Homo sapiens: one gene and its partners. The protein of the gene in region 2 interacts with the protein of the main gene of each other region in a pairwise test. Each region holds a gene or a part of one and is shown on either strand. Other genes may lie near its edges. The genes, in order: EPB41L3, PAXIP1, RNF32 and MAST1.

Region 1 (7,669 bases), on a different chromosome or scaffold from region 2:
ATTCAAATGTGATATACAGTGACTTTTGTTTTGTTGTCCCCCTATGTGGATTATGTGAGTGTGTGTGTCCTTCTCGGATATGAGCATAGGAAAAAATGCTAATAAATTATAATGTAGTCTGACCATTTACCATTGATATGAATGTCACTAAACATAGCAACATTTGTAAAGAAAGCTTTTAATCATCTCAAGTTTCACATATATAAGTGAAGAACTTCATAATATCTTAAAAGTATCTGTAAGACCCACATAGCTCAGTATGATTTTGACCAGCAGGATCACATTTACTCATAGAAGCATCTCTTCTTCAAGGCCATTTTACTCTATTACCGATCACAAAGCAAGAAAATTAACCCCAACTGAAGACATATTAAGAGCTACGTACTTTCACTTAGATTCTTACTCAACCATTCTGACCATTATGCTACATAATTATCATTATCCCTATTTAATAGATAAGAAAACTAACCTTTTATCCTACTTCCTTAACCTTTTAAATTTTACATAATTTCCTAGGGCCACAGAAGTTATGGACCAGCCATAAAGAAACCCAAGGCCGGGCGCCGTGGCTGACGCCTGTAATCCCAGCACTTTGGGAGGCTGAGATGGGCAGATCGCAAAGTCAGGAGATCGAGACCAGCCTGGCTAACACAGTGAAACCCCGTCTCCACTAAAATACAAAAAATTAGCAAGGCGTGGTGGCGGGCGCCTGTAGTCCCAGCTCCTTGGGAGTCTGAGGCAGGAGAATGGCATGAACCTGGGAGGCGGAGCTGGCAGTGAGCCGAGATCTCGCCACTGCACTCCAGCCTGGGTGACAGAGCGAGACTCCGTCTCAAAAAAAAGAAAAAAGAAAGAAAAAAAGAAACCCAAGCATTCTGAGTCCAAGGCCAGGTTTCTTTGCTCTATGCTAAACATTTTCTTCAACCTTAGTACTATTTATTTATATTATATCTTCTTTCCAGGTTAAACGCTCATTTGACAATAGTGAAGAAGCTGGAAAGTCATTAAGACAAAAGTCGTTAAGACAGTGTGTCTCAAAATGTGGTCCTGGGACCACCTGGATCAGATTTCACCAAAGTACTTGTCGGGACATAAGGAGGTCTGGATCCAACTGCAGATCTATTAGATGATAATCCGTGGATTGGTCCCCAAAAATTCCTTTTTAATAAACTCATCAGGTAATTCTGTTGTATAACCACTGTGTCTCATTCTTTGCAAACCTCTACTGTTATCTGGAGTTTCATACTCAAAAAATTCTGCATTCTCATAGAGGGCCATCTTTTGGATTACGGGTTTTGTGGTGGAATGTCACAAAATTCTACACTCATCCTGAGGGTCATCTTTGGATCTTACAATTACTAAGACATGTCCCTAAAAACAAGCAAAGAGGACAACAGCATATACTACTGAAATGAGAAAACATGTACTATGTGTATACTCTCATTAGACTGGTTCTAGATGTCTTCAAACACAGATCTCATTTCAACCTGGAGGTAGGCAGCATCGTCATCTGTTCACTCTGGGGAACCTTGCCTAGAGAAATAGAGTACTCCTCCCACAGTTACCTAGCTCAAGGTTAGCAGATGTTTCCATCTGTATCTTCTCTAGCTCTTTGTATTTTCTTTATTCTGCAACAAGGATTCCCCACCACTGGGCCAAGGACAGTGGTGGTGAGCGGTGGGTGAGTCAGCATTACCACCTGATCTCCGCCTCCTGTCAGATCAGAAGTGGCATTTGATTCACATTCTTGAGTGAGAATGTGAGAATGTGAACCGCACACGTGAGGGATCTAGGTTGTGCATTCCTTCTGAGAATCTGATGATGTGAAGTGGAACAGTTTCTTCCTGAAACCATCCCCCACAACCCCCGTCCATGGAAAAACTGTCTTCCATGAAACCCCAACCTCTGTGCCAAGGACAGGGCCACACAGCAGGAGGTAAGCAAAATGGAGGTCCTTGGTGCTAAAAAGGTTGGGGACCCCTGTTCTACAATATAACTCCCCCCAATGAATTACTGCTCTCATTTCAAGAATTCAGAGGAAAAGTTTTCCAGACTTCTTGAGCAGACAACCTAGTCAATCTCTATTTTCCAAGTCTTATACTTAGCCAGTAAGCATATTCCTTCTAAAGTTAATAAAAGTTGTCACTGAGTAGCACAAAATGGTATAAAACACCAAAATTCATCAAGAATAATTCTCTGTAATGAAACTACCCAAAACTCCCTATATCTCTGGGATGTTAGTAACTCTAGGAAAAAATTACGTAGAAATATGCAACTGTCCGGGCCAGCCTGAGACCTCTAGATGCCCCGATGGCATCATCTCACAGAAGCCTGGGTGCACCATTCCAGCTAGCACCACCTTCAGGATCATAAAGCTATTCTCCCCAAATTGGTGAATGAAGACTGGATTCCAAGTAAATCCAAGATCAGTCAAAATCATGGGATTGTGAATAACATAACAGAGCAGCCCACATCCCTGACGAGGTGGCATAAAATCTGTGAATGGAATATGACATTTGTTACCATTCTGTTGTTGAGGACGAAGGAAGGGTTGGGAACTCAGAGAGAGATCAAAGGAAGCTTAATATTTTCCATCTCTGGGAGCCCAGTGACCCCGTACACCTACTAAACTATCCCAGACCCTGGATATTTTGATTCTGGAGAGTCTAGTTCAGGTCCAGACTGCTGCATCTGCTGTCCCTCGAGGCATGCCAAGAGGCACATGGGAGAATGATGGGCACCCAGGAACTCAGGTTAGGCTTTGCTGGATGAGCTCGCCCCTCTATAAAGAGATGACATTAAAATCTAAATTTAAAAAAGTCAGGAAATCTATGGTGAAAATTTGCTTGTTTTAGTTTGTTAGAACTCAATATTCACACACAACATTGAGATATACATAATAATCATCAGAGATTTTAATTTTTTTAAATATCCTGTTTTACCACAAGCCTCCTGATGTGTATATTAGAAGAGAGTCATGAAGTGTAGGCAGCAAGCAGAAGGAGGCAGAGGGGCTGGACAACAAGGCTTCACATCAACACCATCATTAAGGTAATGATCCTTTATCAATATTGCACAAGACCAAAAGAAAATATTTATTTACCATTAAAAATAATGATGTGGGTATAGATTTGCATGCATGAAAAAGCTCCTCCGAGACATACTGTTACATTTAAAAAAAAAAAAAATTTGGCCTGGTGCGGTGGCTCACACCTGTAATCCCAGCACTTTGGGAGGCCAAGGCGGGCAGATCATTTGAGGTCAGGATCATTCGAGACCAGCCTTGCCAACGTGGTAAAACCCCATGTCTACTAAAAATTCAAAAAAAAAAAAAATAGCTGGGCAGGGTGGCGGTTGCCTATAATCCCAGCTACTTGGGAGGCTGAGGCAGGAGACTCGCTTGAACCTGGGAGGCTCACTTGAACCCGGGAGGCAGAGGTTGCTGTGAGCTGATATCGTGCCACTGCACTCCAGCCTGGGCAACAGAGTGAGACTCTGTTCTCAAAAAACAAACAAACGAAACAAACAAACAAAAAATGGTTACATAGAAGTATTTAAGACAGAAGTCTATTCATGTAAAATATTATGTAATCTACATATGAGTCTGTATATGTACAAAATGATGCTACTGCTATTTATGAAGCACTTGTGATATACCAGATACTGTGCTCAGTGTTTGCATGTATTACATCATTTAATCCTCATATCCTTCAGATATAAGCATTATGCCCATTTTATAAACGAGCAAACAGGCTCTAGGAAGTTAAAAGAACCATGCCACATAGTTATTAAATAGCAAGGCCGAGAGCCCAACCCAGGTGTGTCCTATTCCACTCTGATACGTAATACATTCAGAAAGGTAGATAATGACATTGCCTTTTTTGGTTTTTCTGTATTGTTAGACTATATTTTAAAGTGAGAATGTATTATTTTTAATATCTCAAATAACTGAGATACATTCATTGAAAGGATAAGGAAAATCTTCCCATATTTCGTATATCTCATTTTCTACCTTAAACAATCCAAAAGTAGTATTTAATCCTCAGTTAAATACTCCCACAAAAAGATGGAATGAATTGCCAAAATATCAATCATTGAGAGAAAAAAACATCACATTCAATTTCTGCAAAATTTTGGATAACTCCATTAACTAAAGACCATCTGTCTCCAGATTCCTATTCTTCCAACTCATCCTACACTTATCACCAGAAAAAATATTCTTCTTCCCTACTCAACCACTTTCAATAACTCCCCACTACCTAGCAAAGCCCCAAATATCCCTTAGTCTCATATCCAAAAACCTTCCACAATCAGGCCTCACACTCCCTACTTAGATGCACCTCCCATTACTCCCCAGCATACAGGCTATATTCCAGCTAAAGGCAGGTCTCTTGACTTCTGGAATGTCCTATCTGGAATGTCTTCTCAATGACTAATTGAGAGTCTCTATCAAAATCCAGTCATCTTCCCAAGGCCAAAATGGAAAGTCAAAATGGGAAATGAAGAATTTTCAATAGATTTTCCCTATAAAAGGATCCTTTTATAGGAAACAATCAATAATACATAGAAAAACAATCACTGATACACAGAATGGACAGTGTAAAATAAGCATTACATATTATAAAGTACATTTCAAAAAATTGCATAGCCAAATGATAAACCATATTTCATAAGATTCATGACACTGATTATAAGAGATAACATCATGTTGTATAGCACTCTGCCAATTAAGCTATGACTCACACATTTTTAGAAACTGGAATTTTCATTTTCTTCTTATCTAAAGAACTCTGATTGAGTTATTCAACGCATAAAGAAAATATAAACAAAATAGATTGGCCAAGGTGTTCCCAAAAATTCTTACATATTCAGAATCCAACTCTACCAAATTGCACGTCAACTAAGAGTTACTGCTGTCTATGCTTTTCCACACAATATCAACTTGGGTCACCACGAGCACTAGAAATGTATCACTTAAGAGTGCTCCATTACTGTCTCCAGGATTTTCTCCAATCCACTAACATCCAATGTCCAATTTTTGATGCATATTCACAAACAATGAATTAAGTTGCCAGCTTTTTCTCTGCAACATGGCTGAGAGCCATGTAAGACATATCCCAATTTCAGAGATGTTAAATGTGAAAAAATAACTTTCTTTTAGAAATGATGAAATTTGGGGCTTGAATCAAATACAAAGAAACTCGCTATTTGAGGATGTAAACACAGGCATGTACAAAAATGACCAAAGAAGAGAGAGCTAAAACAGAAAATAGTTTTCCTCTCTTTAGTTGAATGCTAGGAGATCAATATCATCTCCCAGCACTAATCCTTTTCAGCTTTTGTCACCCTACCATTTGATCCCTCCCCTCTTCAGAGGACACCCTCCACACTGATGTCCTCCATGACACCAATTAGAGCTGGCAGGAAAGGAAACCGACTCCCTGCAGTTCTTCCCTCAAAGAAACCATTCTTCTTTTCTCTTGGTACCTGCAGAATTCTCTTCCCTGATATGGCAAAACCTCTAGGATCTACCAATTTGAGCTACAGACAGAGGTAACAACCTTGTTATGAAGAGGACCACGCCATTAAAAATAATGACTACATACATGAGTCTGGTAATTCTCATTTTTAAATAAAGCAGCAGTGCTTTTTAAGCTTTCTCCAAGATTTTTTTTTTTTTTTTTTTTTTTGGTAGTAAAGCGTAAGTTACAAATGGCCCCATTTTTTATACAATTTCGTAAGTATTTACTGAATGCTTTAAGTGTCTAGACCTTTACTTGGTTTGGGAAAGAAACCTGAAGAGAAATAACTCCCTATCCTCATCAAGCACCCACCCAATATAACTGGAGAGAAAAATATATACTCAAGGCAGGTTAAATATTACATTTGTTTTCTAGGTCTAATATAGACCTTTCTGCTTTCTCTCTCTCTCTCTCTCTCTCTCTGTTTTTAGTTTGTAAGGCAGGGTTATAAGAACAATGTATCAAAATGTCAGCAATCTAAAAATTAAGTTGTCAGCTTTTTCTCTGTACTGCAAATTACAAAAGAATTGGTGCTAATAGAAGCTTACAATTCCAAAGTATGCAATTTAACCAATCATCGCAAGGACTAAAAATGCAACACCAAAGACATTTCAACCAAGTAATCTGCAGTTCTGGCATCTAATTTCAACTTGTCTTCTTGTGCCATTCTTCCCAATTTGTTTCTTCTTTATGCTTTGAAACTGTGCTCTGGAATTGCTACATAGTTAAGAAAGAACTGCCCAGAGCTCCTACATACATAATACACTCACATGAAAAATGTCAGTCATGGAAAAGACAAGGAACATCTGCAGCCATTCTGTGGTTCTTCATTTTTTATGCTGATATTACTATAAATTCAGAAAGGAAAACATGAAATATACTTTATTGCTTCCGAATTTCAGTCTTATCATTTATTCAACACTAATTTGGGTGAAATATGTCTCTGATCATCTCTGCACTAGAATTCTAAATTAGGATTAAAATGCTAAATTATAAAATAATTAGTACATAAAACAAAAATGGAAATGGAAATCAATTACTCCAAATCACTGCAGATATCTTCTACTTATGAAACACCTTTTTCCATTTTTTCCTATTGCCAACTGCAATCACATCACTTAAAAATAAATGAGAACATTGCCTACCCAATAAGTAAATTGCATCTTTAGAGAGACCACATACTTTTTTTAAAAGACATTACTAATAACCTAAATCAAGAATTTAAAAAGAATGCTGTTTTAGTACAAAGAACAGTAAGAAATATGTTGCCTCAATATATAAATAAAAATATACTCATTTTTCTTGTTCTTTAATTTTGTAAATGGCCCTTCTAAAAAATTACAGTTTTCTCTACAAAAGGAATATTCAGTGCTTTCTACTATTTCACAAAAAACAAACAAACAAAAAACGTCTCCTTCCTTACTCTTGGAGACACATTTTCCCATGCAGTCTTATATTCATTTACACCTTTCAATTCTCCAAACAATACCTCGCAATGCAGTTCAACTTGAGAAAGGAGTCTCATTGATTGATCAGGCAAAGTTTTAAAGCCAGCAAGATGCTTCAGATGGTCTGGTTTTGCCTGCCCCACCCTTGTTTCCTTTGAGCCATAGTGATGTCACAACACCAGGCAGGACAATGACTTCACTGCTCCAGTCCTTGCTTCTGAGCACAGAATTCCCCACAGCCAAGGCAAATCAAATAACAGCAGAACCCTCCCGGGCTGAGTGCCTGATGAATTCCCAACAAATCAGCAGCTAGCTAGCCGTTTGAAAGAAATAGATGCAGCGATTGCACGATTAAGGATCTCTCTAACTGAAGTGGTGCTAAAGATAAATTTGATTCATAGGTTTCAATGGTGAGTCTATATTTCACGGAAAACTGATGGGGTACTTAGGGGAGACTATGGGAATTAAAGACGGCCAGGGTAGATTACTCAAGAACCCTCTCTCCGCCGGGCGCGGTGGCTCACGCCTGTAATCCCAGCACTTTGGGAGGCCGAGACGGGTGGATCACGAGGTCAGGAGATCGAGACCATCCTGGCTAACACAGTGAAACCCCTTCTCTACCAAAAATACAAAAAAATTAGCCGGGCGTGGTGGCGGGCGCCTGTAGTCCCAGCTACTCGGGAGGCTGAGGCAGGAGAA
Region 2 (7,669 bases):
TCTTGATTCACGATTATGTTATGTTTGTGGCTTATGTAACTCAATAACCACAAATATTTGAAAAATTAAATCCCTTTAAAAAGACTTAATTTTTATCATTCCTTTAAATTATTGTATTTTATAATCTATTCAGACATAAATTTGTAAACCTAATAGTGGTGAATTTAAATAGTTTCTTCTAATTTGTAAGTTTTATGAGTGCTAGAGACCAGCTGACTGTACACAAAAATAACATTTCTTTTTAAAGTAAATGTTTTTGTTTTCTTTAATGAGCACATAGCAAAAGCTTGTGCAAATGGCCTAATAAAACTACCTTTTATACTCTTGAAGTTTAAAAGTTTCAAATTAAGAAGAATGAAAGAATTTATAACTTAAAACCAACAGAAACGGGGTATGGTTATTAGTTGTTGGGGAGAGGGGACATGGTTGACCCTTGAGGTCCTTAGCCCTTAGTGAGTTAGAAGTTTTGAGGATACAAAATTTAGAATAATTTAGCTGATAAATTGGGTCAGGCAAAGGCATCTAAACATTGCTTTCCTCTTAAATCATCTTTGTTTAAACAGTTACTGTCTTTCAGTGATTAAAAACTACCTATCTTGTGAAAAGCGAGAGAAAACTTGAGTGAAATATAGTAAGGCTGTTTACCTAAGTGTTTTACTTAGATTTCCACAGGAAATAGTCAAGTTATTTCTGAAATGTGAAATGCCAGCATTCTATACAAACTAGGAACTCAAGAGCCTACTGGATCCCAGCCTTTTAAGTGTGAAATTATCTTTTTCATATCCAAAATTTTCAGTGACTCCTCTTCATGGCAGTAGTTTTGTTTTGTTTTTTGGTATTTGTTAAAACAATTAAAAATAACTTTTTTTCATATTTTACTATTTCAACAGATATCTTTTTAACTTGGAAAAATCATATGTAAACCATATTACATATAGTCATATGTTATTCAAGCAGATGATATTTTTGTATTAATTGGTTCATAAATATTCTGCTGTGTACCTGGACTTCATATTTTCCTAAAATAACTTGGGTTTTTCTGGAATGGGTAGTCCAGAAATTGAAAATCTCTAGTAGAAATTTATCATCTGGGGAGAGCTATATAACATTTTATGCTTTTAAATATTTAAGAACAGCATGATTTTTTAGGGTAAAGAATAAGACATTTTATTGTCGAGGGTATAGGTAAATTGATGTACTCTTACATAGCTGTTGGAAGTGTAATTGGAATAGCCTTTTTGGGAAGGGAAGTGTAGTTAGAGATATGAAGCCTTAAATCTATTCCTTTTCAAACCTCAACACCAAAACCTAGGAATTTGTCATAAAATATAACTGCAGTTTTTCATAGTAGTGAAACACTGGAAACAACCACGTGGCTAACACTGGGGGATGAACTAAGGTACACAGCTGTGCAACCGAAGAGGAAACTGTAAAAGCCTTTGAGACTACTGGGGAGATCTGAATAGGGCCTGAGGATGAGGTGAATCATAGTTCATTGTGCTGCTATGATAATTATGGTGGTTTAGAAAGTCTTTATCAATTTGAGATCCGTAAACAAAGTTCAGGAGAAGCAAGATTTGTAAAAGATTGCCAGTTATTAAAGCTGGGTGACAGATACAAGGGATTTATTCCACTAGTCTCTAATTTGGTCTGCGTTCGAAAATGTACATTAAAAAGTTTGGTCTGCGTTCGAAAATGTACATTAAAAAGTTTGGTCTGTGTTCGAAAATGTACATTAAAAAGTTAAAAACAAAAGCATAAAAGTATACATGTTTTCATAGGAAGAGGTTGTTCACAATATATTAAGTGAAAAAGGAACATTATAAAGTATTTGTTCACTATGACTATATGTTTTTTCCCTTTGCCCTTTTAATATATGTACATATATATTTATAACAAAAATAAATTTAAACTATACCCTAAAAATGTTAATCGTGGTCCTTTCTAGTCAGTGTGATTATGATTACATTCATTTTCCTTTGCTTAGCTTCTTATTCATGGGTGTCTCCCATGACTAGGTTTTTCTTATATTTTAAAAAGGTTTGAGAAAGAACAAACTCACAAACACAAGTTAAGTCACTGAGCTGTGTGCAGAGCTCACTATTTGCAAGGATCTCCCAGATGGGCAATGCCTGGCGTTCGCTGCCAGGACCGAATGACCAACAGCTGTCCTCTCTGTGCTGCTGCCCCGCATCCCTATTGCGTGTGACTCTTATTCCACCCAGAAATTGCAAATGCCACCTTGGGGCTCTGCAACAGGACACGGAGTTTAGTTTAGGGCCCTGATTATGTGTTTGCTAGAGAATTGCTGTTATGTGTTAAGCTTTTAGGAGCACAGCCAAATTTACAACTCATTTATTTTAAGGTTACTTTATTGTCATATTACTCTTATTTAACATTTTTTATTTATTTCCTCTTTCTTTGTTATTCCCTCCCCTGTGCCTTCCACATTCTACACCCTTTACCACAGGAGAGGTCTCTGTTAGCTTGCCGAACATACTACTCCGGACACATCTTTTCCAGTGGGCTGTATTTTCTGCTTTCATTCTAACTGTGCAAATTGTCATCATTTGTGCCCCAGCCAAAGCTCACCTTTCAACGGGGCTTTCCTCCTGCCCTCCAGCTTATGTTGATGAGATTCCCTTCCAGTCTGTTACTGCATCATTCAGCAGTGGTTTTATATTGTATTTGCATTCCGTATTTAATATCTCTTTAGAACCAAATTGTGAGCCTTGTTAGGTCAGAGACTTGTTGCATCCTTTGTGTCTCCATCCCTTAGTGCTGCTTGGCATATAGCATGAGCTCCATAAATACTGGATCTTGAATAGAGCTGTCCTATGCAAGTCAGCCAAGTCAGCCATGCTCCATGAGTGTACGTGATGCATTGGCGGCACTCTGCCACGCTGTTACTTTACTAACTGTCATGGAAAACCAAGCTTCTAAATATTATCAATCAGTAAAAACTTAGGTAGCAATTATTCATTTCATAATTTTCCATAGGATTACTAGCTCTACTTTTGTACTTAAAATATCATTTTAAAAAGTTAATTTTCAGCCAAGTCTTTTAAGACTCCTGCTACAGGTGTGAGACCTTCCTATGATCACTGCTGTATGGTTCCTTTTCACTTTTGCCTCATGTCCTCTGTCTAAAAGATCAAACGTTGCTTCTGTATAAAATTGTAATAATAGTTGCTCAACATTTCAACTGCATTCCTTGACTGAGTTTTTTCTAAAATGCGTAATTGTAGGAAATGTGATAAAATTTACAGCTTTGTTTTGTGTGTGTTTCTGCTTTCCTCGTAGGAGAAATACGAATGTGCTTTAAAGCGAGCAAGTATTAAAATTGTGACTCCTGACTGGGTTCTGGATTGCGTATCAGAGAAAACCAAAAAGGACGAAGCATTTTATCATCCTCGTCTGATTATTTATGAAGAGGAAGAAGAGGAAGAGGAAGAGGAGGAGGAAGTAGAAAATGAGGAACAAGATTCTCAGAATGAGGGTAGTACAGATGAGAAGTCAAGCCCTGCCAGCTCTCAAGAAGGGTCTCCTTCAGGTGACCAGCAGTTTTCACCTAAATCCAACACTGAAAAATCTAAAGGGGAATTAATGTTTGATGATTCTTCAGATTCATCACCGGAAAAACAGGAGAGAAATTTAAACTGGACCCCGGCCGAAGTCCCACAGTTAGCTGCAGCAAAACGCAGGCTGCCTCAGGGAAAGGAGCCTGGGTTGATTAACTTGTGTGCCAATGTCCCACCCGTCCCAGGTAACATTTTGCCCCCTGAGGTCCGGGGTAATTTAATGGCTGCTGGACAAAACCTCCAAAGTTCTGAAAGATCAGAAATGATAGCTACCTGGAGTCCAGCTGTACGGACACTGAGGAATATTACTAATAATGCTGACATTCAGCAGATGAACCGGCCATCAAATGTAGCACATGTAAGTCACTCTTTCCGAAAAAAATGTCAGTATTGGATCTTAGAATTGGATTTCACAGTCTATTTCAATGTAGTTTATTGGTTTTGCTTTTTCAGACCAAATAACTTACAAGCAGTATTTGTGTGAGAACCTGTTTACTTGTGTGTGTGTGTGTGTGTGTGTGTGTGTGTGTATGTGTATATATGTATATTTCAGGGTCATTGAAAAAGGGTAACAGCGTATTTTAAGTTGAAGATTTAAAGCAGCTGAGTAGAACCAGGATGTCAGTGATGGAGTACTATCCGTTGAAGGGTTTCCACTCTTACTTAGTTTAAAATTAGCAATGGCAGCAAAGAGAATAATGAAGTTTACCAGCTGTACCTGATTTGCTTATAATGAACTTCATGGTAGTAAATAAATAACACAAATTCATGCATTTGTTGAGGAAGGCTTGATTTCAGGTTACAGTTTATATAGCATGGAGCTTATTGATACAGAGTGGATCTTAAGTTTTGTTGCTGGTTGTTTTTTGTTTTGTTTTTGTTTTTTTTTTTTTTTTTGAGATGGAGTCTCACTCTGTCGCCCAGGCTGGAGTGCAGTTGCATGATCTCTGCGCACTGCAACCTCCACCTCCCGGGTTCAAATGATTCTCCTGCCTCAGCCTCCCGAGTAGCTGGAATCACAGGCATGTGCCACCATGCCTGGCTAATTTTTTTTTTTTTTTTTGTATTTTTAGTAGAGACAGAGTTTCACCATGTTGGCCAGCCTGGTTTTGAACTCTTGATCTCTAGTGATCCACCCACCTCGGCCTCCCAGAATGCTGGGATTACAGGTGTGAGCCACCACGCATGGCCTTAAAAGTTTTAAGTACATATATTTCTATTTAAGACAGAAAGAAGGTAGTTGAGGTGGTATATTGGCCACTCTGCATTTTTCTGGGCACTGGAGATAAAATTGTGACTAAGAAAACTAATTTAGGTAGAGAAGACATACAGTAAGTGGAGAAATATGAACAAAAGGACTGTTGATGGTGAAAGGTGTTTCAAAGAAAATAATCAGGGTCCCGTAATAGCAGGTGAAGGGAAGGAGGCTATTTTAGACGAGATGGTCAAGAAGGACCTCGGGCAGGAGGTGACTTAGATCAGGGTTGAATGACAAGGAGAGGCCATGTGAAGAACTGAGGGCACAGAGTTCCCAGGCAAAAGGAAGACCCAAATGGCATGAATTTGCTGAGTTCTAAGAAAAGAAAGTTAATGAAATTTGAACTTCATAAGGTGAATGAGTTCTAGGAAGGATTTAAAAGGGGCCTTGCCATATAGGGCCATAGTGAGGAGTATGGTCTTTCTTGGAAGGAAGCCACTGGGCTTTTGAGTTGGGGTGAGATGCACTCTGTGTAAACAGTGGATCTTTGAGGGGCAAGAGTGAAGCAGAGAGGCCCCTTAAGAGGACATAGAGTTGGAGTTTGAGACAGAAAAAAATGAATGGGAGGATCCAGCTTTCTGGCTTGAGCGAGTGAAGGAAGATGATGCTGTTTCAGAGATAAGGAACACTGGAAAGCTGCAGGTTTGAAGAACCTAAGTTTCTTTTCAGATGTGTTGGGTTGGAGGTATCTGATCCATGCAGGGGCTGTCTGCTACGTGGTGGAACCAGAGAAAACAAGGCTGACTGAAGCTGTGGAGGCGGATGTGAGAATGTGTAGTAGGTGGGGCAGAGCAAGAGGAGGGTCTGGGGCCAGGCTCTGAGGAGCCGCACCATTGAGAGCCAGCTGGGCTGTTCCATCTGATGGTGACACCCCGTCTGCCGCTTCACCTTGTTCTGGACACTTTCATTTCATAATGACAGCTCAAAGTCCCAGAAAAATGGCTCTGTAGCATATAGGAACAACCTGAAGCCGGATCCAGTATTCTCCACATCCACTTTCAGTGGAAAGGCTTGATGTTGATGAAGTGGGGAAATTCAGTATGGCGTAGGTATAAGGTGATGTTGACAATGATCATTTTATTGGGTATGATAATAGCAGTGGTTTACGTAGTGTTTAGAAATGCTGTGGGACAGACAAAATCTTTGTCTCCCCTCCCCTCCACCTAAGCAGCGAGTATTAGTAGTACACGGTTCTTGGGATGATGACAGCGGTTGGCTGGCATCCAGAGTAAGATAGAGGCAAACATGCCCTTTAGATGTTAGACAGCAGACAGTTAAGATGGTGGGGGAGAAGGTGAGCAGAGAGAGAAGGTCATCGGGTTTGAGGAGAATAGAAGATTTTCAAATAGGTGATTCATAGATAGGGAAGACTTTGGGTTTCTGGCTTGAGAGGTGGATGCCTGATAAAATGCCGAGCTGGCCTTCCTCAAGTCCTGGGTGGTGACAGTGCCTTGTAACTGAACAGCAGCTGCCCGTTAGGAGCTCTTGGGCCTGCTTCAGTGCCCACCGCTCCATGTCACCTTGTTGGGTCCCGGAGGAAAACAGGCCTGCCACTGACCATGGGTCTTGGGGGTGGTTGGGAATGTGTGGCTGAGGAAATGGGGAGAAGGCCACCAAGATGAGGAGGTCCAAGAGCTGCAAGGCCAGGGATTGTCCAGGTGGGTGCCCATGAGAGCGCTGGGGTCAGCCGAGTTTAGGGAAAAGGTAGATGCACAGAAGGAGCCAGCTCCAGCACCGCCCAATGCTGAGGGTGCCGGCCCTGGTCCCTGCACATCCGCGTCCAGGCAGGTGGGCGGGATAAAGCCACAGGGCACAGCCTCAGCCACAGAGCAGCAAAGTGACGATCACACAGTCGTCCTGAGAGCCAGAGGATGTCATGACAGGTAGAAAGTAAAGGCCATAAAGAATGACAGGCTAGAGGCAAAGAGGATTCTAGCATTTTTGACCTCAGTCATGAGAAGAGTGATGATACTGCTGAGGTGGAGGAATTGAGAAGGTGACCCAGTCCTGGCAGGAAGACTGCGGCCACGCAGTGGACCTGTCCTGTCAGCAGTGGGATATGCGAGATATGGGCCGTAAAGATCTCTCTCATAGGGTTGGTGTGAGAAATCATGGATTAAGCCTCTGGCACTTCGAGAAATGGCTACTTTCTCACTTTCTTTAGGTGAGAAATTATGGACAGAAGTCATCCATTTGAAATAGGAAATTTTCTTTGCTTTTCATTTATCTGTGGTGTCAAAAAGTGTTGGTCAGTTACTGCTGGTTAGTTACTACTTATTTCTAATATATATGTTTTGGTTGTTTTTTGAGACAGAGTCTCACTCTGTTGCCCAGGCTGGAGTGCAGTGGTGGGATTTCTGCTCACTGCAAACTGCACCTCCCTGGTTTAGGCGATTCTCTTGCCTCAGCCTCCTGAGTAGCTGGGATTACAGGTGCCCATTACCACGCCCGGCTAATGTTTGTTCATTTTTATTAGAGACGGGTTTTTGCCATGTTGGCCAGGCTGGTCTCGAACTCCTGACTTCAGGTGATCTGCCTACCTCGGCCTCCCAAAGTGCTGGGATTATAGGTGTGAGCCACCGTGCCTGGCCTTATTATGTTTTTCAAATACAATGGATGTTGGTTTAAATATAAAGTTCCTTAAGTTTGTATTTGGATATAGAGACAAAATAATTTACTTTGAAATGGAAAGAATTGACTGCAGTAGGGAGTTTGGGCACATCTCTGCACTGGAAATTGTCCTTAGGAGACAAATTTGATATACTCAGCTGTGTGCTCTAGCGGTGGAAAACTGAGAAGGCTCCATCCATTTCTAGTGAGTGAATGGATT
Region 3 (7,669 bases), 1.7 Mb from region 2:
AAAAAAAAAAAAAAAAGAAATATTAAAAATAATACCAGAAGAATGAACCAAAGGATTTGAAAATGGCTGCCTTAGAGTAATGCCCAAAATGGGTCAGGGGAATGCTACACTTTCTGTTATAATCCTCATAGAACAATTTTACTTCTAAAACTATGCCCATGGATCTTCTGATAAGAATCAAGCAGCTACAAGTGTGATGAACGCTATGGAGAATGGTGTGCAGGATGCATGGGGCTGTGACCCCAGAGAAGGTTACTTGACCAAAGTGGCATTAAATGGAGACCCGCAGGGTTAAGAGTAACAGCAGCAGGTGAAGGGGGAGGTTTTCTAGATGGAGGAAAAGGATGTGCAGATGGCCATTAGTGAGAGAGCACCTGGCCTGCAGAGAAACAAATGAACAGTAAGACTGAAGAGGCTGAGACTGAGGTTGCGGAGGAGGGGCGCTGCCTCAGGGCAGCTCTTTGCCTTTGGCTCAAGGTGTGGGAGCAGGGAGAGACAGGGCCCCCAGCACCACCCTTCCTCTTAGACTTGGGTGGGCACTTGCTGTACAATCCAGACTCTGCTATGGTCAATGTCAACTGCCTCAACTTCAAACATCCACATCTCCCCATCATGCAAACCTGGCCTTATATTTATAAACTAATCAAGACCTTAGAACGGGAGGGAGAATAGGTAAATTGTATTGACAGATTTCAGCAAACTGCTGTGCTCTCTGGCCACAATGTAATAATGTTTAAAATCAATAGCACGTCCAGCACCCATCTTGCCTTTAGAACCCCACTGCGCGTCAGTGGAAATGGGCTCAGCCTCACAGAGGTCTCTTGATGGATCTAAGCATGTCGTGGAAGTCTTGCTACCCTTTGCCAATTTTTAGACTATCAATGGGCATGTGACCGTCTCAGGTGAAGCGGAAGGAAGGTCTGTTGGGAGCTTTCTCCCCTGCCTTTCTGGCTCCTCCCTTGTTGTTGAGGACTGACCCTGGGGCTGTGCACCCTCTTGTGTCCATGCACGGGGCAGCACCTCCCGACGGCAGCACCGGAAGGAGGCTGGTCCCGGCAAACATCAATAAGCCACCAAACCAGAACTGCTGTGAACAATGACACACACCATTAAGCTTTACATCACTTTCAGTGTGTTGCTTGTATATTTGCAGCCAAATGCATCCTAACCCATCACCTCTCCTCACCCCGCTTAAAGGAAAAAAAGCCTCAGGCCCAGATGATTTTACAAGTGAGTTTCCCCAAACTTTTAAGGAACATATCATCCCTATTTTCTGTTATTCCAGAATCCTGAAAAAGAGGGAACACTGCCCAACTTATTTGGTGAAGCTTATATGGCTTTGATAATAAAACCAGACAAGGACAATCATAGTCCAGGGTAATCCATGGTTAAACGTCAAACATCGTAAACGAGAATTAGTTATCAGAATGCAACAGTGAATGTGAAAAACACCGTGGGCAAGTAGGGTTTATTCAAGCTATGCACGAAGATTCAACATCAGAGTCTGTCACTGTAATTTACGGCACAAACAAACTCAAGGAGAAAACCCACAACAAACACGCTCATCTAAAAAGTTGCAGGAAAAAAAGCATTTAAAAAAGTACACCTATTAATGAGTTTAAAAACCTGTAGCAACTGGCTAAAAGGGAAATTTTATAATTAGATAAAGGCCAACAAACAACACAAAACAACAATAAACAAAGGGCAAACATCACATAAGTAAGTAAATGAAACGTGTTAGGCTAAGGAACGAGACAGAAATGCTAGGTATTACTACTCGTATTCACCACAGCTCAGGAGATCCTGGCCAGATTAAAAAAAAAGCAGGGAAAAAAAAGAAGGGGCATAAAAGTAGAGAGGCACAGACAATAAGAATCACTGCAGAGATCAACTTACTCAGAAAACCCCTAGGAATCAGAGACAAAAAGACCTAAATGGTGTGAGATGCTACCATATTTGTGGATCAGATGATAACACTGTAAATACAGTATTTCCCCGATCTATAAATCCAATTCAAAAAAAATCTCCAGCAGAATTTTATGTAGAAAATGAGGCAGTTTTAGGAAAAAAAAAAAGAGGAAACGTCTTTTCCTAGCAGCTATTAAGACATATTGCAAGACTCTATTAATCAAAACAGTGCAATACTGACATAGAAGCAGAAGCCTTGGAAGGAGAGAACAAAACACGCTTTAATCTCGTCGATTTTCCCAGTATCATAAGCAAAACAAACTGTGGTGACATCTAAATGTGAAAGGTAAAAGGTTAAAGGTAAATAAAGAAAATGTAGGAAAATCTTTGCACTCTCAGAATGGTGAAGTATATCTAAAGTCTCTCCCAAACAGCAATAAAGTGAAAAAAACAAAACAAAACAAAACAATGGATTTAACATTAATCAGAATGAAAATTGTATTCAATATAAAACAATAGATATAATTTAAAAGATGGTAAAAGAACAGAAGATATTTTCAGTGGCTAAATCAACAAGAGATTACTATGTAGAATATGCAAAGAACTCCAGTAAATCAGCAAGAAAAGACAGAAATCCAAGTGGAATATTATGTATAGACAGTAAAGAGCATATGGTTCAATGTCATTAGTAACTAATACGCACAATCAAGATTTTTTCCATAAAGAGGTCCTGAAAAAAGGTCTCATCTATTTTCCTTAATAACTTTACTTATTTTCCAAATTGGGACGTTCCTCTTTATATCTAATTTAAATTTTTCCTGATAAAACTCTTAAGATTGATTATGATGAAACTATTTGGTCATCTACATAAACCATACAGGTACAACAGAAGATCTTCACTAAACTACTGTACGACATTATTCCAAGTCTCAACACGTTCATGAGCCATGCTGTTTTCTAGAAGACATCGAGCTTGTTAGCAGAAGTTCAGAGGAAGACAGCATCAAATATCTCCCCTGGCGTCGCTGTGGAAACAGGTCCCCTCCACCTTGTGTGACTCCAACACACAGATCTTCCAGCACCTCCAGATCCATCTGACCTGCGCCAAGACACGCCATCCTCAACCAAACCTATTTTCCATGCCTATCAATAAAAAATCATATTTCTAACTTTTCGGTTTAAAATAATTTCAGATTTACAAAAGGTTGTAAAAACAGTATGAAGAATTCTCAGCAAAGGACTAGTATCCAGAACCTACGAGGAACTCAAACAAATCAGCAAGAAAAAAAAAAAACAAATAATCCCATCAAAAAGAGGGCAAATGATACGAACAGATATTTCCCAAAAGAAGATATGCAGATGGCCAACAAACATGAAAAAATGGTCGTCACTCGTCATCAGGGAAATGCAAATTAAAACCACAGTGAGATACCACCTTATTCCTGCAAGAATGACCATTACTAAAAAGTCACAAAACAACAGATGTTGGCGTTGATGTGGTGCAAGGAGAATGCTTATACACTGCTGGTGGGAATGTAAATTAGTACAACCTCTATGGAGAACAGTATGAAGACTCCTTGAATAACTAAAAGTGGATCTATCCCTCGATCCAGCAATCCCACTACTGGGTGTCTACCCAAAGGAAAAGAAGTCATTATATGAAAAAGATGCATGCATACGTATGTTTATTGCAGCCCAATTCACAACTGCAAAGATACGGAACCAACCTAAGTGCCCATGAACCAATGAGTGGATAAAGAAAATGTGGTATATATACACCATGGAATACTACTCAGCCACAAAAAAGAATGAAAAAATGTCCTTTGCAGCAGCTTGGATGGAACTGGAGGTCATTATTCCAAGTGAAGTAACTCATGTTGTATGTTCTCACTTATAAGTGGAAGCTAAGATACGAGTATGCAAAGGCATACACAGTGGTATAATGGACATTGGAGACTCAGGAGGCGGAGGGTGGGAGGGTGTGGGATAAAAAGACTGCACGTTAGGTACAGGGTAGGCTACTCTGGTGGTGGCACTAAAATCTCAGAATTCACCACTATATAATTCATCCATGTAACCAAAAACCACTTGTACCACAAAAGCTATTGAAATAAAAATAAATAAAAAAGAAGAAACACACACAAAAAACAAACAAAAAATTAAAAAAAAACAGGCCAGGCATGGTGACTCACGCCTTTAATCCCAACACTTTGGGAGGCTGAGGCGGGTGGATTACCTGAGGTCAGGAGTTTAAGACCAGCCTGGCCAACATGGCAAAACCCCATCTCTACTAAAACTACAAAAATTAGCTGGGTGTGGTGGCACACACCTGTAATTCCAGCTACTTGGGAGGCTGAGGCACGAGAATCACTTGAACCCGGAAGGCAGAGGTTGCAGTGGGCCAAGATCGCACCACTGCACTCCAGCCTGGGCAACAGAGCAAGACTCCATCTCAAAAAAAACAAAACAAAATGAAATTTCAACATGAGTTTTGGAGGGGACAAACATTCAAACCATAGCCTAGCCACTGTGAGCTATCAAAAGACCTCTGGTACCTATCAACATAGTAATATATGTGAGTAGTGGATAAGGAACAAAGTATGAAAAGTACTTAGCTTGATGCTGTGAAAAAGTCTTCCAGACAACAAATGTAAGTGAAGGATTCCGTTCTCATTGATGCCTAATCTAAATGGAAGTTCTCCCCTATCAGGGACATACTTGATGTACTGGGTTGAATTGTGTCATCTCAAAATTCTTATTCACCTGGAACCTCTGGATGTTGACCTTATTTGGAAATAGGGTCTTTGCAGATGTAGTTAAGATGAGGTCATACTGGTTTAAAGTTGGCTGTACATCCTATGAATGGTATCCTTATAAGAAGAGGAAAGGGAGAGTACAATCACACCTAGAGAAGAAGGTTTTGTGAAGTCAGAGGCAGAGATTGGAGTGACGCTGCCACAAGCTAAGCAATGCCAGGAACCACCAGGGAAAGGTAAGTTAGGATTCTTCTGTAGAACCCTGCCAACAGCGCCATTTTGGACTTCTGGCCTCCAGGACACTGAGAGAATACATTTCTTTTGTTTTAACCCACCCAGTTTGTACTAATTGCTTGTGGCAGCACTGGGAAACGAATATCCTTAAAAACAGCATTTACAATTATAAGTGCATAATACATCTCCTTTTATTAATTAGAAGAAATGGAATTGATTTGCATGCCTTTATTTACAGGCACAAACTTGTAGCAATACCATACACAGTAAGAATGTGTGTGAAGTTGCATGCTATATGCATCCCACCTATCATAAAGAATTTCAATCAGCCATGACGGAGGTAAGGCTGACTTATTTCTATAGAGAATGACATTACAGAATTATTGTCACATGAAAATATGATCAAAGAGTATCTAGCAATCAAAAGAGATGGAAAAAGTATTACAGAGATATTTCAGGCAGCTAACTAATACAAAATATTATGCTATTTTTATTGATTTTTGTTTGGGATACATTTCATGTTGTTTTGAAATTCCTGATTTGTTGCAAGTTTTGGTCTTACTCTAAATACATATTCACACTTGCAAAAAGAAAATATTATCGTATGTTCTTAACCCCAAATGTTAACCTTTTATATAACCCTGGTACAAAGATCAAAACCACAAAATTAATGTTGCTATAATCTATCAATTAGCCTACATGCCTTCTGCAGATCTGGTTCTCTGTCACACTGATGTCTTTTTTCTGAACTAGGATCTGATCCAGGATCACAGATTGCACTTGCAGCTATGTCCCCTGGGTCTCCTGTAATCTGGAACAGTTGCTAGGTCTTCATTTGCTTCTGTTGACTTGATACTTTTGAAGAGTACTAGCCAGGAACTGTGTGGAATGTCTTTCACTTGGACTGGTCTGAGGTTTCCTCATGATTAAATTCAGATATACATTTTGGTAAGAATGCCACAGAAGTGATGTTGTACCTTTCAGCAGGAGACACATGATGCTGGCCCGTGCGTTACTGCTGACCTAACTAGGATTACTTGGTTCAGGTGCTGCTTGCCAAGCGTTACAACTGTACAGCTGAAGTAATTGTGAAGTTATTGTTTTTCTCCCTGCCATGTACTTGCATCTCTGGAGAAACTACCTCAATATTCTGTGTCTGTACGTAAATTTTTCTCATTCCTAATTTCAGTATTGATGATCATTACTGTGGTGTTTGCCAAAGGTGATTTTCTATCCCCGTCTACTATCCTTATGAGTTATATTCATTCTACTATAAGGGATTTTTCTTTTCCATCATTTATTTACTCAATTATTTATTTTTATCAATGTGAATCAATAGATATTTCTTTTGTTCTCCCATTTTTACTTATTCTACTTACCATTACTATCTTTACCTTCTTGCTCTAATGGTCCCCTATCATTTTTAAACTTCAATACATACATACCTTCAATACATACACACCTCTCTGTATAATTATAAATAAGTTATTTCTGTAACATAAAAAATTATACTATTAATCTCAATAGATTTTTTTAGCCCTAATAAGCCAAAAGATGAATGACTACGTCAGCTTACCCAAAGTCAACGGCGGCGGTTTGGGATCAAGAACATATTCTTTTTCTGAGTCTTCTAGTTTGGGGCACTGTGTAGTTTTTTTAAGTCCAGTATCTATTATTGCCTTTGTATCTCTTTTTAGAGATTTGTTCTCTTTCTTTTGTACTTGTGTCTTAGAATGATCTGCAACTGAAAGATTTCGAAGTTGAAGATCATGTAAAATGTGATCTTGTAAAGCAACTGCATTGACTGCCAAGTTATCTTTCTTAGATGAGTGACCCTAAAAAGTAGGAAAAAAGTCATATTTAGAGGAGTATTATGTAATATATCATTTAGAAGAGAACTGAGGCTTCAATACTCAACCTTGATGGCACATACAACCAAATCAAATAGTAAGGAATGCTTGACTCATTGTTACCTAAGTAGGAGCAGACCCTTGTCTCAGCATTTATGTTAACAATACAGGAATATCTTTTCATTTAATTATGAAAGCCTTAATTATAATATGAATAAATTCATTATGACCCATAAACCTGTGCATGCCTAAACAAACCCACGCTGCTTCACTATAATTAAATTAGACTCCAGGCAACTACTAAGGAGACTCCTGCCATTTCAGCTTATGCCTTTTTGTGAAAACTTAATAATTTCCTGTGCAGAATAAAAATCACCAAACAGCTAAGAGATGCTTGCAGTAAATATCGCCAGAGATTGTTTTTCCATTGGCTTGTCCACTGCCCCATGCGACACTTGGCATCGCCCATTCCTGCTGACAATTCCTAGTTCAAGCAGGGTTTGCAAACTAGTTTTTATACTCTCAAATGGCTGAATTAAAATACATTTCATGAGTCAAATAACGTGTATGTTTAAGAAAAGAATAGCGTACCTTATTTTTTAACATGCCGAATTAGGAAAAGTTGTTGCTTGGCTATCACAAATTCTATCATCACATCCTATCACCTTCCTTCTATTCTTCTGCTGCAAAGACGTGGTCAACAGAAAGTCAAAGTTACAGTGCACAGAAAAACCATGAAGTTTGTGAGGATGCTCTGTAAGAGTCTAACAGATCCTGAAGCAGCAGGAATGCCTGCTACAGGGTGGCACTAAGCTACACATTCTGGTTCTGGAGGAAGGGGGTGAACTCAAGTCAGTTATGCTTCGACTCATCCCTGTCCTCAAATAGTTCACCCCTGAGCTCCTGAGGACACATTAATAC
Region 4 (7,669 bases), on a different chromosome or scaffold from region 2:
GAGATTTATTACATAGATATTACATAAAAAGATCTATGATATATAAAAATATTGAACTTATATGCTCCAAAGAATGTAGCCTAAAAATATCTGACATAAAAATTGACAGAATTGGGCAGAGTGTAAGAGGTATCTTATGCTGTATTTTTCCTTTATTGTTTGCAATACTTCGCACACTATTGTATGGAACTCTTACCTATAATCAAATAAAAACCAAAATGGCAAAAAAAAAAAAAAAATTGACAGAATTACAAGGAGAATTTGCTTAAAATAAGGTTTCACATTTCTCTCAGAAACTATTAGATTAATCAGGCAAGATAAATGAATAGGGAGATGGAAGATTTGAATCACTCAATTAACAAGTTTGATTAAAAGGAATAACAGAATCCTACAAACAATGAGAGATAAATACCTTTTTTTAGAGTTTTAGATTTTGAGTGATGTCATTCCATTACCTATTCAAAAAATTAAACAAATGGCATATATTGTGAGATTCCTTTTAAATATATACATAAAGGAAAGGTATGTGTATATATCTGTGTGACTGTATAGACACAATTTGAAATAAAGATTACAAACTTAAGCGTCTTCAGGGGCCAGTAGACCAGGGTGGAGGCCATGGATGACGAAGGGGCAGGTACCCAATATCACAGGACCACCCCCACTCAGCTGGTTCCACCACAGTATTATTAGAACTTCTTCTTCTTCTATTTTTTTTTAAGTAGAGACAGGGTCTTGCTATGTTGTCCAGACTGGTTTCAAACTCCTGGGCTCAAGCAATCCTGCCACCTTGGCTTCCCAAAGTGCTGGGACTACAGGCATGAGCCACTACACCCAGCCCTAGAACTTCTGATTTTTCAAGAGAAGGCCCAAACCCAGATTTTGAAGCAAAAATCTTTCAATTTTTATATTTTGCTTCTTTTATTTATCTATTTTTATTTTTTTCAAGATGGAGTCTCACTCTCTCACCCAGGCTGGAGTGCAGTGGTTTGATATCGGCTCACTGCAATCTTTGTCTCCCTGGTTCCAGCAGTTCTCCTGCCTCAGCCTCCCAAGTAGCTGGGATTACGGGTGGGCACCACCACACCTGGCTAATTTTATGTATTTTTTTAGTAGAGACAGGGTTTCACCATGTTGGCCAGGCTGGTCTCGACTTCCTGACCTCAAGTGATCCACCCGCCGCAGTCTCTCAAAGTGCTGGGATTACAGCCGTGAGCCATCAGGCCCAGCCCAAATTTTTGAAAAATACTAGGCAGTTCAGAGAAAACACATGTGTGGCCATTGGGGTAGGACTCTCCACTAGACATCTGGAACATCTGCCAAAGTGTGGCTGGCCTGGGAATAGAATTGGCAATTTTCCCCATGCTGAGCTGCCATTAACACATACAGCCAGTTAGCTTGCTCGAAAGCCCATGCAGGATTCCTCTATAAGTTAAACATAGAGCTACCATATGACCAAGAAATTCCACCTCTAGACGTATATCCTAAATAACTCAAAGCAGTTGTCCAGCCAAATATTTGTACACCCACATTCATAAGAGCACTATTTACAACAGATGAAAGATGGACAACCCAATGTTCACCAGTGGATGAATGCATCTACCATTCAATGGAATATTACTCGGCTATAAAAATGAATGAAGCAGTGACACAAGCTACAACATGGATAAACCTCAGAAACGTTATGTTAAGTGAAATAAGCCAGTCATAAGAGGCCACAGAGCATACGATCCCATTTATAGGAAATATCCAGAAAAAGGCCAGGCATGTGGCTCACGCCTGTAATCGCAGCACTTTGGGAGGCCAAGGCAGGCAGATCACCTGAGGTCAGGAGTTCGAGACCAGCCTGACCAACATGGTGAAACCCTGTCTTTACTAAAAATACAAAATTAGCCAGGTGTGGTGGCGCATGCCTATAATCCCAGCTACTCAGGAGGCTGAGGGAGGAGAATTGCTTGAACCTGGGAGGCGGAGGTTGCAGTGAGCCGAGATCACGCCATTGCACTCCAGCCTGGGCAACAAGAGTGAAATTCTGTCTCAAAAAAAAAAAAAAAAAGAAATATCCAGAAAAAGCAATTCCACAGAGAGAGAAAATAGATTAGTGGTTGCCAGGGACTGCAGGGAGGGAGGAATGAGGAGGGAGTGTGTAATGGGTGTGAGGTTTCCCTTTGGGGGTGATAAAAAAGTTCTGCAACTACATAGATCTAATGGCTGTACAGCATGGTGAATTACTAAATGCTGCAGAATTGTTTATTTATTACTATTAATCATTATTATTATTATTATTATTATTATTATTATTATTATTTTGAGACAGAGTCTCGCTCTGTTGCCCAGGCTGGAGTGCAGTGGTGGGATCTTGGCTCACACCAACCTCCACCTCCCGGGTTCAAGCAATTCTCCTGCCTCAGCCTTCCAAGTAGCTGGGATTACAGGCATGTGCCACCACGCCCAACTAATTTTTTTGTATTTTTAGTGGAAATGGGGTTTCACCATGTTGGCCAGGCTGGTTTCGAATTCCTGACCTCAAGTGATCCACCCATCTTGGCCTCCCAAAGTACTAGGATTACATGCATAAGCCATTGCACCTGGCCTATTCTTTATTATTTTTAATTTCATTTTTCAAGACAGGGTCTCACCCTGTTGCCCAGGCTGGAGTGCAGTGGTGTGATCATGGCTTACTGAAGCCTTGACTTCCTGGGCTCATAGGATCCTCCCACCTCAGCCTCCCGAGTAGCTGGGACTACAGGGGTGCACCACCACGCCCAGCTGATTTTTTATGCTGCCCAGGCTGGTCTCAAATGCCTTAGCACAAACAATCCTCCTGCCTTGGCCTCCCAAAGTGCTGGGATTACAGGCCTAAGCCACTGCACCCGGCCCCGAATTGTTCATTTTAAAATGGTTAAAAAGGCCGGGCGCGGTGGCTCATGCCTGTAATCCCAGCACTTTGGGAGGCCGAGATGGGCAGATCAACTGAGATTGGGAGTTTGCAACCAGCCTGACCAACATGGAGAAATTTTAGTCTCTACTAAAAATACAAAATTAGCCGGGTGTGGTGTTACATGCCTGTAATCCCAGCTACTCGGGAGGCTGAGGCAGGAGAATTGCTTGAACCCAGGAGATGGAGGTTGTGGTGAGCTGAGATAGTGCCATTGCACTCCAGCCTGGGCAACAAGAGCAAAACTCCATCTCAAAAAATAAATAAATAAATAAATAAAAATAAAATAAAATGGTTAAAAAAGTAAATTAAATTTTATGTTTCATGGATTTTAACATGACAAAGAGGTCACAGGGGAAGAGCAATTATTTTATTTTATTTTATTTTATTTTTTGAGACAGTTTCGCTCTTGTTGCCCAGGCTGGAGTGCAGTGGTGTAATCTCAGTTCACAGCAATCTCTGCCTCCTGGATTCAAGTGATTCTTCTGCCTCAGCCTCACAAGTAGCTGGGATTAGAGGCATGTGCCACCAGGCTTGGCTAATTTTTGCATTTTTTTTTTTTTTAAGTAGAAACGGGGTTTCTCCATGTTGGTTAGGCTGGTCTCGAACTCCCGACCTCAGGTGATCTGCCCACCTTGGCCTCCCAAAGTGCTGGGATTACAGGCATGAGCCAGCATGCCAGGCTCTGGAAGAGCTATTATTAATCCCATTTTATGGATGGGAAAACTGAGGCTCAGAGTGTAGGACCAAGAGATCCACAAAGCCTGAGGGCAAAGAAGCCGGAGATGAGCCCCACCCTGCCCTCCCAGGAACCAGGGTACTGACCGCTTAGCCACCCAGCCTTACCTCAGAGAGATCGTCTTGCTCAGGGGTGTTGGAACCACCACTGTCCTGTTCCTCCAGATGCACCACATCTAGGGAGGGACTGAGAGTGAGCACGAGCTGGGTTCTGGGCCTGCTCACCCCCAGTCCCCCTGCGCCCACCAGCCGGCACCTGGAAAGGGGTCACGGGTGAGGCCCAGCTGGCGGATGATGTAGCGGGGGATGTCCGTCTTCACAAGGTGGCCCTCCTTGGCGTGTCCTTCGGCCGCCTCCAGCAGGTGGTAGAACTCCTCGGGGTTGAATTCCTGAGGCAGGGCAGGAGTGGGCTCACCACAGGCTCCCAGGGTCTACCAACCCACCCCTACCCATGCCCAGCCCCCTCACCAGGCACTCCAGCAGCCTCGCAGGGCGTGAGATGATAATAAGCAACTTCTTCACCAGCTGAGTAACGAAGGCCACCTCCAAGCTCTCAGAGCGTTCATAGGCCTGTGGCAGGGGACACAGAGGGACAGGGCTCATAGGCACTCTGCCTCAGCCCGGCCCCTCTCTCAGCCCCTCAGAGTACATACTGCTGCTACTGTCCCATCTTACAGGTGAGGAGACTGAAGCCCAAGCCACACAGTAAAAATAATGAGGCTGGGCACGGTGGCTCATGCCTGTAATCCCAGCACTTTGGGAGGCTGAGGTGGGTGGATCACTTGAGGTCAAAAGTTTGAAACCAGCCTGGCCAACATGGTGAAACCCCATCTCCACTAAAAACGCAAAATGAGCCAGGCGTGGTGGCAGGTGCCTGTAATCCCAGCTACTTGGGAGGCTGAAGCAGGAGAATCCCTTGAACCTGGGAGGCAGAAGTTGCAGTGAGCCAAGATCACACCACTGCACTCCAGCCTGGGTGACACAGCGAGACTCTGTCTCAAAACAAAAGCAATGACAAACAAACAAACAAACAACAAAACCATAGCGAGACCCTGTCTCTACAAATAATAAAATTAGCCAGGTGTGGTAGTGTGTGCCTGTAGTCCTAGCTACCTGGGAGGCTGAAGTGGGAGAATTACTTGAGCCCAGGGGGCTAAGGCTGCAGTGAGCTGATTATACCACTGCACTCCTGCCTGGGTGACAGAGAGAGAGACCCTGTCTCAAAAAAAAAAAAAGAAAAAAAGAAAAGAAAAAGAGGCCGGGCACAGTGGCTCACGCCTGTAATCCCAGCATTTTGGGAGGCAGAGGAGGGTGAATTACTTGAGGTCAGGGGTTTGAGACCAGCCTGCCCAACATGGCAAAACCCCATCTCTACTGGAAGTACAAAAATTAGCTGGGTATAGTGCCACACACTTGTAATGCCAGCTACTTGGGAGGCTGAGGCAAGAGAATCGCTTGAACCAGGGAGGTGGAGGTTGCAGTGAGCCGAGATCACATCACTACACTCCAGCCTGGGTAGCAGAGTGAGACTGTCTCAAAAAAAAAAAAAAAGAAAAGAAAAAACTAATATCTTATTGCAATACTTGAAAAGCCTAAAATTAATGCCAAAAATCTATCATAAGCCAAAATATCAAAATTTAAGCCAGATGTGGTGGTACATGCCTATAATCCCAGCTACTCAGGAGGCTGAGGCAGGAGGATTGCTTGAGCCCAGGAGTTCAAGACCACCCTGGGCAACATAGAGAGTCCTCCATCTCAAATGAAAAAGAAAAAGAAAAAGAAAATTAAATAAAGACAGAATCCAACAGGCTGTGCCTAGCCATATTGTAACTTGAGCCAAAAAAAAGTATGCACCAACCTATATGTGTTTTAATGTGTCTTTGAAAATGTCTAATGGTTTCAATGAAAATAGTATTATTGATGAGTTTGCTTTCATTAAAACCAGGACAGTAAAATTATAACACATTCTGGCTTGGTTATAAATAAAATATGTAAACTTAAAATAATGTTGGGTTTTCATTTATCTACTTTTCAAGTTTTTCAAAAATTAATTTAATGTTCTGGGGGAAGAAATAATTACTTGCTTTACCCTGGTCCTGGTCTCAGCCCTAATACCTATTGGGTCTTTGTTTGTTTGACTTGTTTTACTGTAGAGACAGGGTCTCGCTATGTTACCCAGGCTGGTCTGCAACTCCTGGGCTCCAGAAAGCCTCCTGTCTCAGCTCCCCAAAGTGCTGGGATTACAGGGGTTAGCTTCTAACGCCTATTGTTTATCTTCTGTCTCTTCCTGCTATTAATAGAATGTCAGCTCTCCAAAGACAAGAATTTTTGTTTTATTTCCAGTTGATTTCCCAGCTTTTAGGCTAGTGCCAGGCCCATAGTAGGTGCTTAATAAATATTGGTGGGGGCCAGGCATGGTGGCTCACACCTGTAATCCCAGCACTTTGGGAGGCAGAGGCAGGTGGATCACCTAAGGTCAGGAGTTAGAGACCAGCCTGGCCAACATGGTGAAACCCTGCCTCGACTAAAAATACAAAAATTAGCCAGGCATGGTGGTGGGTGCCTGTGATCCCAGCTACTCGGGAGGCTGAGGCAGGAGAATGGCTTGAACCTGAGAGGTGGAGGTTGCAGTGAGCCAAAATCGCACCACTGCACTCCAGCCCAGTGGGATAGAGTGAGACTCTGTCTCCAAAAAAAATAAAATAAATAAATAAATAAATATTGGTGGAATTAATGAATGATCAAGTGATCCTCCTGCCTCAGCCTCTCAAGTAGCTGGGACAGCAGGTGTGTGCCACTACACCTAGCTAATTATTTTTATTTTTATTTTTATTTTTTTTGAGACAGAATCTCACTCTGTTGCCCAGGCTGGAGTGCAGTGGCGCAACCTCGGCTCACTGCAACCACTGCCTCCCGGATTCAAGCGATTCTCCTGCTTCAGCCTCCTGAGTAGCTGGGATTACAGGCACGTGCCACCAAGCCCGGCTAACTTTTTTGTATTTTTAGTAAAGACAGAGTTTCACCTTATTGGCCAGGCTGGTTTCAAACTCCTGACCTCGTGATCTGCTCGCCTCAGCCTCCCAAAGTGCTGGGATTAAAGGCGTGAGCAACCTCGCCTGGCTTAAATTTTTTAAATTGTTTTAGAGATGGGGTCCTGCTATGTTGCCCAAGCTGGTCTCAAGCTCCTGACCTCAAGCAATCCTCCCATCTCAGCCTCCTAAGTAGCTAGCTGGGACTACAGGTGCATGCCACTGCAAAGGGACATTCAAGCATCAATTTACCCAACATTTATTGAGTACCTACTGTGTGCTGGGTATTGTTCCAAACAGCAGGGACACAGCAGTGGACAGAACAGACAACTCCACCCCCCCACCCTCACCAACTATGGGGCTGACATTGGAGAAGGATAGACATGAAATAAAATAAGCAAAAATACACAGTATGATGGATGGTGCTGAGTGTCAAGGAGAAACTGAGGAGAAAGTGGGTGATAAATGTGAGTAGAGTTTAATATTTTATTTTATTTCATTTATTTATTTATTTTTGAGACAGAGTTTCACTCTTGTTGCTCAGACTGGAGTGCAATGGTGTGATCTCGGCTCACCGCAACCTCCGACTCCCAGGTTCAAGCGATTCTCCCGCCTCTGCCTCCCAAGTAGTTGGGATTACAGGCGCCCACCACCACGCCCAGCTAATTTTTGTATTTTTAGTAGAGACGGGGTTTCGCCATGTTGGCCAGGCTGGTCTCGAACTCCTGACCTCAGGTGATCCACTTGCCTCAGCCTCCCAGAGTGCTGGGATTACAGGCCTGAGCCACCGCACCCGGCTAAGTTTAATATTTTATTTTATTTTATTTTATTTACTATTATTATTTTTTGAGACGGAGTCTCGCTCTGTCGCCCAGGCTGGAGTACAGCGGCGCAATCTCGGCTCACTGCAAGCTCCGCCTCCCGGGTTTACGCCATTCTCCTGCCTCAGCCTCCCGAGTAGCTG

The links.
Region 1: the proteins of PAXIP1 (region 2) and EPB41L3 interact in a two-hybrid assay, tested with the Homo sapiens proteins (one study listed by BioGRID).
Region 3: the proteins of PAXIP1 (region 2) and RNF32 interact in a two-hybrid assay, tested with the Homo sapiens proteins (one study listed by BioGRID).
Region 4: the proteins of PAXIP1 (region 2) and MAST1 interact in a two-hybrid assay, tested with the Homo sapiens proteins (one study listed by BioGRID and IntAct).

Annotation. Positions count from the first base shown.
Region 1 is NC_000018.10:5,533,329-5,540,997, forward strand, and holds part of EPB41L3 (band 4.1-like protein 3), read right to left. Parts: intron 7,097-7,669; exon of another isoform or gene 7,012-7,096; intron 1-7,011. UniProt on the Homo sapiens protein: Tumor suppressor that inhibits cell proliferation and promotes apoptosis. Modulates the activity of protein arginine N-methyltransferases, including PRMT3 and PRMT5.
Region 2 is NC_000007.14:154,971,966-154,979,634, reverse strand, and holds part of PAXIP1 (PAX-interacting protein 1), read left to right. Parts: intron 1-3,303; coding exon 3,304-3,939; intron 3,940-4,729; exon of another isoform or gene 4,730-7,669.
Region 3 is NC_000007.14:156,643,563-156,651,231, reverse strand, and holds part of RNF32 (RING finger protein 32), read right to left. Parts: intron 7,432-7,669; 5' UTR 7,355-7,431; coding exon 7,340-7,354; intron 6,734-7,339; coding exon 6,475-6,733; intron 4,779-6,474; exon of another isoform or gene 4,672-4,778; intron 1-4,671. UniProt on the Homo sapiens protein: May play a role in sperm formation.
Region 4 is NC_000019.10:12,848,511-12,856,179, reverse strand, and holds part of MAST1 (microtubule-associated serine/threonine-protein kinase 1), read right to left. Parts: intron 4,247-7,669; coding exon 4,145-4,246; intron 4,066-4,144; coding exon 3,933-4,065; intron 3,921-3,932; exon of another isoform or gene 3,853-3,920; coding exon 3,785-3,852; intron 1-3,784. UniProt on the Homo sapiens protein: Microtubule-associated protein essential for correct brain development. Appears to link the dystrophin/utrophin network with microtubule filaments via the syntrophins. Phosphorylation of DMD or UTRN may modulate their affinities for associated proteins.